3 separate regions of the Homo sapiens genome follow, and regions 2 and 3 are each linked to region 1. Evidence: fine-mapped QTL for protein levels in blood plasma. A gene starts in region 1. Each other region holds a variant in brackets. All regions are shown on one strand. Distances are from middle to middle. Region 1 holds the start of RABEPK (Rab9 effector protein with kelch motifs). Region 2 overlaps HSPA5-DT (HSPA5 divergent transcript). Region 3 overlaps GOLGA1 (golgin A1).

What was found. A credible set is the group of variants that fine-mapping cannot tell apart. PIP is the chance, under the fine-mapping model, that this variant and not a neighbour inherited with it causes the effect. Protein levels are from antibody-based Olink assays in UK Biobank. Linkage for the fine-mapping came from a reference panel and not from the study's own genotypes, which makes the PIPs less certain.
Region 2: its variant is the best candidate, but not a certain one, in a credible set for the plasma level of the RABEPK protein (UK Biobank, PIP 0.85).
Region 3: its variant is the best candidate, but not a certain one, in a credible set for the plasma level of the RABEPK protein (UK Biobank, PIP 0.67).

Annotation. Positions count from the first base shown.
Region 1 is chr9:125,199,319-125,202,076 of GRCh38, reverse strand. RABEPK (Rab9 effector protein with kelch motifs) reads right to left here and starts at 1,535. Exons shown (of 8, transcript NM_005833.4): 1 at 1,171-1,535. LOC105376271 (a long non-coding RNA gene) reads left to right here and starts at 1,681. Exons shown (of 2, transcript NR_135145.1): 1 at 1,681-1,851; 2 at 2,422-2,544. RefSeq lists a silencer at 1,608-1,657.
Region 2 is chr9:125,242,956-125,245,713 of GRCh38, reverse strand. The region is part of intron 1 of HSPA5-DT (HSPA5 divergent transcript); the gene reads right to left. Among named protein-coding and RNA genes, the nearest start is that of HSPA5-DT, 2.7 kb to the right of the region's middle. The variant G/C (reference allele first, on the strand shown) is at 1,107.
Region 3 is chr9:124,901,551-124,904,308 of GRCh38, reverse strand. All of the region lies in intron 12 of GOLGA1 (golgin A1), which reads left to right. Among named protein-coding and RNA genes, the nearest start is that of GOLGA1, 38 kb to the left of the region's middle. RefSeq lists an enhancer at 449-949. The variant G/A (reference allele first, on the strand shown) is at 1,426.

The DNA of each region.
Region 1 (2,758 bases):
ACACCTGGCTAATTTTTTTTGTATTTTTCGTAGGGATGGGGTTTCACTATGTTCGCCAGGCTGGTCTTGAACTTGGCTCGCCTCGGCCTCCCAAAGTGCTGGGATTACAGGCGTGAGCCACTGAGCCCGGCCATTTATTTATTTTTTAATTAAAAATAGAAACGGGGCTGGGAGCAGTGGCTCACGCCTGTAATCCCAGCACTTTGGGAGGCCGAGGCAGGCGGATCATGAGGTCAGATCGATACCATCCTGGCCAACATGGTGAAACCCTGTCTTTACTAAAAATACAAAAAAAATTAGCTGGGCGTTGTGGCCCACGCCTGTAGTCCCAGCTACTCAGGAGGCTGAGGCGTGAGAATTGCTTGAACCCAAGAGGCGGAGGTTGCAGTGAGCCGAAATTGCGCCACTTGCACTCCAGCCTGGCGACAGAGCAAGACTCCTCCTCAAAAAAAGAAAAAAAAATAGAAATGGAGGTTTCGCTTTGTTGTCCAGGCTGGTCTCGAACTCCTAGCCTCAGGCAATTCTTCCACCTCAGCCTCCTAAAAAGCTGGGATTACAGGTGTGAGCCACTGCTCTCCGCTCAAAGGACAAAATATTTAAAGAAGCTGAGAAATACTGAGCTCTGGGATAAATCTTGGCCTCAACATAGCATAGAAAGTAAGGCCTTCTGCTGTTGAGCTTTTTTCCCGTGAACTCACCTCCACAATCTCTTGCATTATTGGTTTTTTTGCTGTTCTTGTAATATGGCAGGCCTTTTCATAATTTTGCAGCCTGTTCTGCTTCCCCTATTTGGAATGTCGCTTCCCTTCTGGGAAATTTGCAAACTCCTAGTTAACCTTCAAAGCCCAGTTCAAAAGTCCCTTCCCTGGTGAAACCTTCCCTGATTTGCCCTTTTCTCTTCCACCCACATCCAAGTTACTTCCTTCTTCCACCCACTGGGCTCTGAAGGTATTAGCCATCACCATTGCAGGAATCATTTGGAATGTTTATCTATTTAAGGCTTCTAGACTAGATTCTAGATTAAATTCCACTAGACTAAGTTCCTAGAGGGCTGGGCCTGTCAGATCCATTCCGAGAACCTACCAATGGACCTGGCATGGAGTAGAAGTGGGGGAGTGGCTAGTGAATGAAGAAAGAAAATAGATTGAGAGATGAATGGATAAATCTCACCTGCGGCCTAGGCCACTGACAGCTGTCCCCAAAGTCCAGAGCTCAGTTAGGCTGGCTTCACGTGGGCGGGACCTCCCGCAGCAGCCGCCGCTACCAGCCCAGCAAATCTCATCCCCACGTGGCAGTTCTAGGGGATAGGAGACGGGGTCGGGAAAGAACAGGCTGATTCGGTCAAAGTGGCCGGGACGGAGCCAGGGAAGGCCCTTCCCCGTTCTTTGCACCCGGCTTGGGCCCACTCCCCTAAAAGATTCAGACTCCCTGCCCGAGACCGTGATAGACCCGGTATCCGGGGACCCTCGCCCCTACCCTCCAGCCCCGGACTGCAATACCTGCGGCGACTTAGGCCAGTCGCGAGCCGTGACTCCACCCCGGAGGGGCGGGGCTTAGGTCCGGGCCCTCCTCCCAGGACCCGGAAGAGCGTCCGGGCCAACCGCTCCCTCTTCCCTGCTCCGCCCCGAGGGCCCGGCGCTGACTTCCTGGGCTGGCGGTGGAGGGGTCCCCCAGACCGGGAGTGGACGCCAGGCTCTGCATTTCTCGGGAACCAAGTGGGGTGGGCCTTCCCTGGGTCCCTCCCTCCCGGACGGGATAAATAAGCCGGGGCTACTTGGAAACGATTTGCGCAATGCCGGGTTCGGGCGTCCGTTTGGGGAACTCAGATGCCTGCGGCAGCTGATCTACTCTGTAAGGGGCTAACAGGGCTGGGCGCCACCACACTCCAGCTTGGGCAACAGCGCAAAAACTCCCTCTCAAAAAAATAAATAAATAAAAGGGGGGGAGGGTATAACAGTTACATTTCCAGTTACAACGATTGTTTTTTTTTTTTTTTTTTGAGACGGAGTCTCGCTCTGTCGCCCAGGCGGGACTGCGGACTGCAGTGGCGCAATCTCGGCTCACTGCAAGCTCCGCTTCCCGGGTTCACGCCATTCTCCTGCCTCAGCCTCCCGAGTAGCTGGGACTACAGGCGCCCGCCACCGCGCCCGGCTAATTTTTTTTGTATTTTTAGTAGAGACGGGGTTTCACCTTGTTAGCCAGGATGGTCTCGATCTCCTGACCTCATGATCCACCCGCCTCGGCCTCCCAAAGTGCTGGGATTACAGGCGTGAGCCACCGCGCCCGGCCACAACGATTGTTAACAGTTTCTAAAGGGGAGAGTTGAGCATGCAATCCTCCTGCGCAGTCTTCGGGCCAGCTCAAGATTTGGTGCTTTAAACAGCTGATTCATTCCATAATTGCCATTTGTAATTATGGCAGGTGCTATGCTGAGCCAGACACCACCACGCTTTGCCTCCAGGAGCAAGTCTTAACTAGAGAGAGATCAAAGAAAAAGACAACTAGGGACGACTGCCAAGAGTGCAATAAATATAAAGTTCAGCCAGGAGAGTATCTGTTCTGAAGTTACTTTCCTCCAGGCCTCAGGGTTGTCTGTTTGTAACCATGGAGCTAATAAGATTTCTATCATAGGCTGGGCGCGGTGGCTCACGCCTATAAGTCCAGCACTTTGGGAGGCCGAGGCGGGCGGATCACGAGGTCAGGAGTTCGAGACCAGCCTGGCCTACATGGTGAACGCCCCCGCCCCCCCCCCCAACTA
Region 2 (2,758 bases), 44 kb before region 1:
GCTCTGTCGCCCAGGCTAGAGTGCAGTGGCGCAATCTCAGCTCACTGCAAGCTCCACCTCCTGGGTTCACACCATTCTCCTGCCTCAGCCTCCTGAGTAGCTGGGACTACATGCGCCCGCCACCGTGCCCGGCTAATTTTTTGTATTTTTAGTAGAGACGGGGTTTCACCGTGTTAGCCAGGATGGTCTCGATCTCCTGATCTCGTGATCCACCCGCCTGGGCCTCCCAAAGTGCTGGGATTACAGGCGTGAGCCACCGCGCATGGCCACAAAAGAAGATTTAAGAGCTAAATGACATCCAATCCTAATAAGTCTTACCTCTGCTTAATTAGCTTTCTGAGATCAGGTAGGAAATGGAAAGCAATTTTTTTTTTTTTTGAGAGAGAGTTTCGCTCTTGTTGCCCAGGCTGCAGTGCAATGGCATGATCTCAGCTCACCTCAACCTCCGCCTCCCGGGTTCAAGTGATTCTCCTGCCTCAGCCTCTCGAGTAGCTGGGATTACAGGCATGAGCCACCACGCTGGGCTAATTTTGTATTTTTAGTAGAGACGGGGTTTTCCATTTTGACCAGGCTGGTCTCGAACTCCCGACCTCAGGTTATCCGCCTGCCTCGGCCTCCCATAGTGCTGGGATTACAGGTGTGAGCCACCAGGCCCAGCCTGGAAAGCAATTTTCTTACCCATAGGAGCACAAGTGAAATGGGCTGGTTTAAATTTCTGGATAAAAATTTATATTTGCATATCATCTGTTATCAAAATATTTACAAAATGTGTAACTGGAGCTGGATGTGGTGGCTCATTCCTGTAATTCCCACACTTTGGAAGGCTGAAGTGGGAGGATTGCTTGAGGCCAGGAGTTTGAGACCAACCTGGTTAATGTAGCTAGACCCCATATCTATGAAAATTATAAACTTTAAATTTAAAACCCAAAATATGTGACTACTCTATATCCTAAAACAAAATGTAAGGTTTTTTTTTTTTCTTTTTAGACAGTCTCACCCTGTTGCCCAGGCTGGAGTGCAGTGGTGCGATCTTGGCTCACTGTGACTTTCGCCTCCCAGGTTCGAGTGGTTCTCATGCCTCAGCCTCTCGAGTAGCTGGGATTACA[G/C]GCGTGTGCTACCATGCCCAGCAAATTTTGTATTTTTATTAGAGATGGAGTTTTGCCCTGTTGGCCAGGCTGGTCTCGAACTCCTGACCTCAAGTGATTCACCCACCTTGGCCTCCCAAAGTGCTGGGATTACACATCTGAGCCACCATGCCGAAACCCAAAATTAAGTCTTATAAATCTGAAGCTCAAGATGACAACCTATAGAGGTTAAAAATCAAACTGCCAAGGCTCAAATACTGGCTCATTATCTTAGGTGTGCAATCTCCTGGGCAAGTTTCTTTACCTCTTGGGGCTTCAGATTCCTTCACTCTAAAATAGGGGTAAGAAAAAAATGCTTTTTTGTTTGTTTCTTTTTGTTTTTGTTTTTGTTTTTGTTTTGAGACAGAGTCTCGTTCTGTGGCCAGGCTGGAGTGCAGTGGTGCGATCTCAGCTCACTGAACCTCCGCCTCCCAGGTTCAAGCGATTTTCCTGCCTCATCCTCTGAGTAGCAGTAGCTGGGACTATAGGCGCGCGCCACTACACCCAACTGATTTTTGTATTTTTAGTAGAGACTGGGCACCATGTTGGCCGGGATGGTCTCGATCTCTTGACCTCGTGATCCGCCCACCTCGGCCTCCCAAAATACTGGGATTACAAAAAACTGCTTTCTTAAAGATAAAAAGAGATAATGCACGTACGTCTTTAGCACAGTGTCTAACAGTTAAGTATTGATAACTTGACCTGGATATTATTTTTGGCATTTAATGTTCAGCAAGCTAGTTTTGACCATGTACTTTCCTATTCGTAAGTGACTGTGCTTTGGAATATACTAGAAAATGTATGTAAAATGTCTGGTTTTAAAAAGATGAAACCACAATATATTCAATTCCCTTTGGAAGTTAGCCATGTATCGCTTTTCTAAATTTTACAAAAAGGAGAGTTACAAAACGTTACTCTGTTAATCAAGGATAAGGCTGAAATGGAGAGTTTTTTTTTTTAATGGAAATGGACTGCACTATAAAAACATTTGATTGAAATGAAAGAAGCTGTAATGTGGTCAAATGATGATTTCTATCTTAATGCTGGACTGATGCAAGCCAAAGAAGGGTCAATGTTGCCGCAGGATTACAAGCCCTGCTGAAAGAGATGCATGATGCAACCTCTGTAGTGAACAGAGTCAACTCTTGAGTCACCAGTCTAACCTTTGAGAAGCACTAAGGAAAAAGAAAATTCTTGAGTACTGAGTCACAGGCTCAACATCTTAATAAAGTGTGTTTAGGATGTTTTAGTGGTATCTGGACACAGTATACCCATGAATCTCAAATATTTCATATCAGAGCTTTGCCCTTTCCATAGTAGGTCCTCCAAAAACATTCCTCAAACAAATGAATTTTTTTTTTTTTTTTGAGATGGAGTCTAGCTCTGCTGCCCAGGCTGGAGTGTAGTGACGTGATCTCGGCTCACTGCAACCTCCACCTCCCGGGTTCAAGCGATTCTCCTGCCTCAGCCTCCCGAGTAGCTGGGACTACAGGCATGCACCACCACGCCCAGCTAATTTTTGGATTTTTATAGAGATGGGGTTTCATCGTGTTACCCCGGATGGTCTTGATCTCCTGACCCCGTGATCCGCCCACCTCGGCCTCCCAAAGTGTTGGGATTACAGGCGTGAGCCA
Region 3 (2,758 bases), 300 kb after region 1:
TTATTAAACAGTAACTCCCCAATTCCTCCTACCCCAGTCTGGGAACCACCATTCTATTTTCTGTCTCTTTGAGTTTGGACACTCTAGATACCTCCTGTTGGTGGAATCATACAATGTTTGTCCTTTTGTGTCTGGCTTATTTGACTTAGTATATACATCTTCAGTGTTCATCTATGTTGTAGCATATGTCAGACTTTCATTCCTTTTTTTTTTTTAACAGAATTTTTTTTTTTTTTAGAATTTTTTTGAGATGGAGTCTTGCTCCGTCATCAGGCTGGAGTGCAGTGGCACGATCTCGGCTCACTGCAACCTCCGCTTCCTAGGTTCAAGCAATTCCCCTACCTCAGCCTCCCGAGTAGCTGGGACTACAGGCGCGCGCCTACAGGCACGCTCCACCACGCCTGGCTAATTTTTTGCATTTTAGTAGAGATGGGGTTTCACCATGTTGACCAAGATGGTCTCAATCTCCTGACCTTGTGACCCGCCCACCTCGGCCTCCCAAAGTGCTGGGATTACAGGTATGAGCCACTGTGCCTGGCCTATTCCTTTTTAAGACTGAATAATATTCCATTATATGTATAGACCACATTTTGTTTCTCCATTCATTCATTGATGAACACTTGAATTCCATTTGTCTTTTTTTTTTTTTTTTTTTTTGGTCTTTTTCTCCCCTTTTTGTGGAGAACAGGGTCTCCCTATGTTGCCCAGGCAGGTCTCCAATTCCTGGGCTCAAGCTATACCTTTGTTTCCCTAAGTGCTTGGCTTGCAGGCACGAGCCCCCGTTCTGTAAGCCCAGTACTTAGGGAGGCAAAGGCATAGCTTTTTTTTTTTTAGACAAAATCTCGCTCTGTTGCCCAGGCTGGAGTGCAGTGGTGCGATCTTGGCTCACTGCAACCCCCACCCCGCAGGTTTAAGCAGTTTTTGTGCCTAAGCCTTCTGAGTAGCTGGGACTACACATATAGACCACCACGCCTTGTATTTTTAGCAGAGATAGGGTTTTGCCATGTTGGCCAGGCTGGTCTCGAACTCCTGGCCTCAAGTGATCCACCCGTCTTGGCCTTCCAAAATGCTGGGATTACAGGCATAAGCCACCGCACCCAACCCACACCCAGCTTTTGATGGACATTTGCGTTGTTTCTATCTTTTGGCTGTTGTGAATAATGCTACCATGAACGTTCCTGTACAAGGTTTTTGTGTGGACTTAGTGTTTTCATTTCTCTTCAGTGTATACCTAGGAATAAAATTGCAGGGTGATATGGTAACTTTTTCTTTAATCTCTTGAAGATCTGAATCTATCTTGAACTTGGCTTCTAAATTGAGACTTAGGTATTTTCTGATCTCAGGAGTGTAAAACAACGTCTTAGTTTTGGCGCTACCACCAATAAAATTTGCAGTCATGAGCTAGTAACAATCCTGTTCTTCTCC[G/A]TGGACTAGTAGCCCCTTTCTCATGGGATTGTTTCGGTTAAATCTAAGATGTGAATGTATGTGAGGAGCCTAGGCCTTAAAAACGTCCTCTCCTTGGCTGGACACGGTGGCTCATGCCTGTAATCCCAGCACTTTGGGAGGCTGAGGCGGGCGGATCACAAGGTCAGGAGATCGAGACCATCCTGGCTAACACGGTGAAACCCTGTCTCTACTAAAAATACAAAAAATTAGCTGGGCATGGTGGCAGGCGCCTGTAGTCCCAGCTACTCAGGAGGCTGAGGCAGGAAAATGGCGTGAACCCAGGAGGCGGCGGAGCTTTCAGTGAGCCGAGATCGCGCCACTGCACTCAAGCCTGGGCGACAGAGCAAGACTGTCTCAAAAAGAAAAAAAATCCTCTCCTTGTGTGTCTACCTCTCCTTCACCAAGCTGCATACAGCCTTCCTTGTGCTTATGTTTAATAATAAAGCTCCCCAGCTGGGCGCGGTGAATCACACCTGTAATCCCAGCACTTTGGGAGGCCAAGGCAGGCGGATCATGAGGTCAGGAGATCGAGACCATCCTGGCTAACACAGTGAAACCCCGTCTCTACTAAAAAATAGAAAAAATTAGCTGGGTATGGTGGCAGTTGCCTGTAGTCCCAGCTACTCAGGAGGCTGAGGCAGGAGAATGGCGTGAACCCGGGAGGTGGAGCTTGCAGTGAGCCGAGATCATGCCACTGCACTCCAGCCTGGGCGACAGAGCGAGACTCCATCTCAAAAATAATAATAATAATAATAAAGCTCCCCAAGGCCAGACCTTATTCAGTAAATAAGAAGGCTTTCTAAGAGAAATTCATAGATGTAGCTTGAATCTGGTAAAACTGCCATCTTGGAGAGCCAAGTGCAACTCAGTACTAGACAGTGAGTCCCTGAGGGCCAGTCTACATCTGTCCCACTCACGGCACTGGCCTCGTGCCCAGGTGCAGTTCCTGGTATGGAGTCAGTCTTGCTCAGTATTTGTGGAATGAGTAAATCCTGAATTTGTATTGTGAACAGTAATTCCACTTCAAGGAATCTGTCCTAAGGAAGTGATTCAAACCAGTTAAAAAAATACTGTGTGTCCTGGCCAACATGGTGAAACCCCGTCTCTATTAAAAATACAAAAATTAGCAACCAGGTGCGGTGGCTCATGCCTGTAATTGCAGCACTTTGGGAGGCCGAGGTGGGCGGATCACGAGGTCAGCAGATCGAGACCATCCTGGCTAACATGGTGAAACCCTGTCTGTACTAAAAATACAAAACATTAGCTGGGTGTGGTGGCATGTGCCTGTAGTCCCTAGCTACTCAGGAGGCTG